2 separate regions of the Homo sapiens genome follow, and region 1 is linked to region 2. Evidence: fine-mapped expression QTL. Tissue or cell type: thyroid. Region 2 holds a variant in brackets; the other region holds the start of a gene. All regions are shown on one strand. Distances are from middle to middle.

Region 1 (2,654 bases), 46 kb after region 2:
TGTATACACACTTTGTTATTAGTGATCTAGTAATGTTCATAAATCCAGTTGTATTTAGATCTTCATGACCATTGACTATCAGTTCCCATTTCAGGTCTGCACATTGCAGTGGTTCTGTGCCCTGGGTCCATTCAGTGATTTCCCTGTGTTCCATCTTCTGTTGAATCCACAACTGTTGTTCTGTGTATAATTTCTCTTCCTTGCTGTGTATGATTACATTCTATTATTTGTAACAATAACAGACCAAAAACAATAGAAGCAGCCATGTCTGGAGGTGACTGGAAGGTGGAGAAGCCATAGATTTTCAAGCCCTGTGCCATAAATTATGTGAGATTGGCCCTTTCCTTAATAGTGCTGAACAACTTTCACTTGTGAGGTGATGCAGAGGGGAGAACTCTAATTTTTATTTCTTCTTTTGAGCGTCTCCGGTCCTCTTATCCTTATAAACAAATAACGGACTTCTATTTAATGTGAAGCCTGTTGCTTTCTGAACAGAGTCAAGGTGGCGTATCTTCAGAGTAACTAATGTCTGGGGTTTGTTTTGTTTTTCTAAAATTGTTCTTGAGCCAGCTGTGGTGTAAGTGGTAATGAACCCCAATGGGTATCAGAAGATCTCTGCTCAAATCCCGGTTTTACCGGCAATGAGCTGTGTGGCACTGACAGGTGTCCTGTTCTCCCAGAGTTTCTTTCCCAATTTGAAAAATAAAAAATGATAATCTTTATACTCCAGTCTCTTTTAATGATGAATATACATTTATATATATACTTTTATATATTTAATATAATATTTAATAGTATAAATATGTATTTATGTTATTATTATGTAATAATGTATGTAACACTCCCTGCTAATTCAGTTTGTCTCTTTGACATGTAAAGTAAATAATCACCTATTATTATAATAATGTAATAATAACACAAATATTATTATGTAATAACATATATATTTATGTATATTGTTTATATACATTTAAATATATATAAATATACATTTATTAGCTAATAATTTGATATATGTATGGTAATTCAACATGTATGAGTTATATTCACTATTTCATGTTTAGGCAGCTGTATTTTAAGTGAACTATACTAAATATTTGAAAGGCTTTTGTTATCAAGGGCTAAGTCTCCTATTTTTTGATATAGCATTACAATGTACATTTTTTATACACAAAATATAGAATACACTGATTTCCCTCAAGGTCATAAATTCCCAACTGGTCATTAATCTGAGAATATTGAATTTTGAGTATATTCTAACATAGAATCATTTACTTCAGTGTTTCTCCATCATCACAGCACATTGGAACAACCAGGGACTTTTAATTAAAAATACCTGGGCTCCAATCCAATACAATTAAACCAGAATCTCCTAGATTGGCACTGGAAAGAAGGAGTAGGACAAAAGAACATTTTATTTCTATCCATGGGCCAAAGTCCACTCAGAAAAAAAGTATAAATTGGATCTAGGTGATTGTTTACTTTACATGTCAAAGAGACACACACTAAATTAGCAGGGAGTGTTATAAAAACTTTGGAGTGCAAGCTCACAGCTGTCTTAATAAGAAGAGAAGGCTTCAATGGAACCTTTTGTGGTCCTGGTGCTGTGTCTCTCTTTTATGCTTCTCTTTTCACTCTGGAGACAGAGCTGTAGGAGAAGGAAGCTCCCTCCTGGCCCCACTCCTCTTCCTATTATTGGAAATATGCTACAGATAGATGTTAAGGACATCTGCAAATCTTTCACCAATGTAAGTCTGCCTTATGTTCCTCCAGCCAATTGCAAAGGGTAAGTTATTTGACTGCTATTTTTAGACAAAATATATTCCTGGAAGCACACTATTATAATAGATCATTGTAAAGCAAAATACTCCCTCTGAACTTCTTTGATGTTTCTTTTGTCTTCCTATTTTTTTTTTTTTTGAGACGGAGTCTCGCTCTATTGCCCAGGCTGGAGTGCAGTGGCACTATCTCCACTCACTGCAAGCTCTGCCTCCCAGGTTCACACCATTCTCCTGCCTCAGCCTCCCCCGAGTAACTGGGACTACAGGTGCCCTCCACCATGCCCGGCTAATTTTTTGTATGTTTTAGTAGAGACAGGGTTTCACCGTGTTAGCCAGAATGGTCTCAGTCTCCTGACCTCATGATCTGCCTGCCTTGGCCTCCCAAAGTGCTGGGATTACATGTGTGAGCCACCGTACCTGGCCTCTTTTGTCTTTCTAAGTCTGTCATTGTCAGAAATAGCGGAGTGAGTTGATGCATTTTGTGAATACAGAAACATTGGGGTCATTGTATTATATAATCATTTAATACAGTGGCAAAAGTTTAAAGTGCTGTTTCTCCTCTTTGTTTCACAGTGTTTTGCTATGATTTTTGACTGAAGGTGAAGGGAAGTGTGTGTGATTAGAAATTTCATCCAATAAGTTCTCTACTATAGTAGTCATGTGTTTTATTCAGAATGGTCATGAAAATTGAACTTCTCTGAAGATTCATTTGATGGCTGATGTGAAATAAATATCTGTGGGTTCAGGGCAAACATAAGTGCATGAAAGAAAGAAGTAATCAGTCAGGGCCCAATAGGTAGTTAACAGAATTCTTTTGGATTCTGAAGAAAGCCACTGTCTGTGGCCAAGGTTGCTGGAGAATGGAAGAAATTG
Region 2 (2,861 bases):
CATGAATGTTGAACTGAATAATTTGCTTAGAGAGAAGTTTTTGAGGTGCAAAGGTTATGGGTACTAGCCTCTGCTCTACAACTTGCAGACACCATGTTCTTGGCGCAGATGATAAGTCCCTGAGTCTTGATATCCTCATCTTTAAAATGGGGATGATTTTACCATAGGTGAAGATAATTGAGAGAATCAAAAGTGATATAATGGGAGTGAACATTCTCTGTGAATTATCAGAGTCCCTGAAAACCTGAGGGTTAAACATTGTGTAAGTGGAGTCTTGACAAAAACTCAATTTTTCCTTATAAAACAGCTTAGAATAATTATGCTGACCAATTTAAAATAAATATGATAAAAAATTAAAATAAATATGTTAATATCTCTACAGTACATACCTTTGCACAAGCATTGCATTAGTTATCTAGCAATGTATATCATCCTAATGATACATAGGTCCTTATGCTCACTGAATTCCATCTCCCATTCAGGTTTGTATATTGTGGTCCTTATGTGCTATAAGTTTGTTTAATAAAGTCTCCTCTAAGAATAGACCACATGTTATGTACCAAAACAAGTCTTAAAATGTTCAAAAAATTGAAAAAATAAGCATCTTCTCTGACCACAACGGAATAAAACTAGAAATTAATAACGAGGAATTTAGAAAACTATACAAATACATGTAAATTAGACAATATGCTCCCGAATGACCAGTGGGTCAATGAGCAAATTAAGGAGGAAATTCAAAAATTTTTTGAAGGAAATGTTATTGGAAACACATTATACCAAAACCTATGGGTTACAGCGAAAGCAGTACTAAGAGGGAAGTTTGTAGCTATTAAGTGCCTACATCAGAAAAGAGAAAAAACTTCAAATAAACAATCTAACAATACATCTTAAAGAACTAAAAAAGAGAAAACCAAACCCAAAATTAATAGAAGAAAAGAAATGGTAATATCAAGGCAGAAATAAATAAAGCTAAAATTACAAAATTACAAAAAAATCAATGAAACAAAAAGTTGTTTTTTTTGAAAACTTAAACAAAATTGACAAACCTTTACCCAGACTAACAAAAAAAAGAGATAAGATCCAAATAGACAAAGTCCGAAATGAAAAAGGAAACATTACAACTGATACTTCAGAAATTCAAGAGATCATTAGTGACTACTATGAGCAACTACATGCCAATAAATTTAAAAATCTAAAAGAAATGGAAAAATTCCTAGATACAAACAGCCTACCAAGATGGAATTAGGAAGAAATCCAAAACCTGAACAGACCAGCAACAGGTAATAACATCAATGTCAGGATAAAAAGTTTTCCCATAAAGAAAAGCCCAGGACCTGATGTCTTCACTGCTGAATATTACCAAACATTTAAAGATGAAGTAATACCAGTCCTACTCAAGCTATTACAAAAAATAGAGGAAGAGGGAATACTTTCAAAGTCATTCCAGGAAGCCAGTATTATCCTGATACCAGAACCAACCAAAGATTCATATGAAAACAACTACAGAGCAATATCACTGTTAAACATTGATGCAAAAATCTTCAACAAAATACTAGCAAACTGAATTCAACAGTACATTACAAATGTCCAT[C/G]ATGACCAAGTGGGATTTATTCCTGAGAGGCAAAAATGGTTCAACATATGCAAATCAATCAGTGTAATACATTGTTTCAACAGAATGAAGAATAAAAACAATATGATCATTTAATTGATGCTGAAAAGCATTTGATAAAATTTAACATCCCTTCATGATAAAGACTCTCAAAAAATTGGGAATAGAAGAAACATACCTCAACATAATAAAAAGCACATATGACAGACCCACAACTAGTACATACTGAATGGGAAAAGACAGAAAGCTTTTGTTCTAAGATCTGGAACAAGATGAGGATGCCCATTTTCACCATAGTTATTCAACATATTACTGGAAGTCTGAGCTAGAGCAATCAGACAAAAGAAAAATATCAAAGGCATCCAAGTTGGAAAAAAAGTCAAATTATTCTTGTTTGCAGATGATACATCTTATATTGGGAAAAACCTAAAGACTCCACAAGAAAACTATTAGAAGTGATAAACAAATTTAGTAAAGTTGCAGGATACAAAGTCAAGATATAAAACTTAGTAACATTTCTTTATGCTAACAGTAAACAATGTGAAAAAGAAAAAATAGTAATCTCATTTATGATAGCCACACAGAAAATTAAGTAGCTAGGAATTAACAAAAGAAGTAAAAGATCTCTATACTAAAAACTATAAGACGTTGATGAAGGAAATTGAAGAGGACACAAAAAAGTGAAAAAAATTTCATGTTCATTGATTGGGAGAACCCATTTTGTAAAAATATATATTGTTAAAATATACTGCCCAAAGCATGCAGTTCCTTGCATTGCTACAGATTCAATGCAATTCCTATAACAATACCAATGACAGTCTTCACAGAAATAGAAAAAAAATTCTAAAATTTATATAGAACCATAAAAGACCCAGAATAGCCAAAGCTATTCTAAGCAAAATAACATTACTTGATTTCAAATTATACTGCAGAGCTATAGTAACCCAAACAGCATGGCACTGGTATAAAAACAGACACATAGATCAATGGAGCAGAATAGAGAACCCAGAAATAAATCCACTCTCCTACAGCAAACTCCTTTTTGATAAAGGTGCCAAGAACATACCTGGGGTGAAAGACAGTCTCTACAATAAGTGGTGCTGAGAAAACTGGATAGCCATATGCAAAAGAATGAAACTAGACCCCTATCTCTTGCCATATACAAAAATCAAATCAAAATAGATTAAAGACTTAAATTTAAGACCTCAAATTATGAAACTACTACAAGAAAGCGTTTAAGACAATCTCCATG

Direction of the effects. Alleles are on the strand shown, and positions count from the first base shown. SD is a standard deviation of normalised expression in the study named.
With allele G in place of C in region 2, the expression in thyroid of the gene that starts at base 1,486 in region 1 is lower (moderate effect, 0.52 SD a copy in GTEx).

Evidence for each region. PIP is the estimated chance that this variant, and not a neighbour inherited with it, causes the effect. A credible set is the group of variants that fine-mapping cannot tell apart.
Region 1: it holds the start of CYP2C8, and the variant in region 2 is the best candidate, but not a certain one, in a credible set for the expression of CYP2C8 in thyroid (GTEx, PIP 0.72).

What each region holds. Positions count from the first base shown.
Region 1 is chr10:95,068,329-95,070,982 of GRCh38, reverse strand. It overlaps CYP2C8 (cytochrome P450 family 2 subfamily C member 8), which reads left to right and starts at 1,486. Exons shown (of 9, transcript NM_000770.3): 1 at 1,486-1,748. The coding sequence starts at 1,581. RefSeq lists a promoter at 1-1,581.
Region 2 is chr10:95,114,183-95,117,043 of GRCh38, reverse strand. All of the region lies in intron 8 of LOC107984257 (a long non-coding RNA gene), which reads left to right. Among named protein-coding and RNA genes, the nearest start is that of CYP2C8, 46 kb to the right of the region's middle. The variant C/G (reference allele first, on the strand shown) is at 1,592.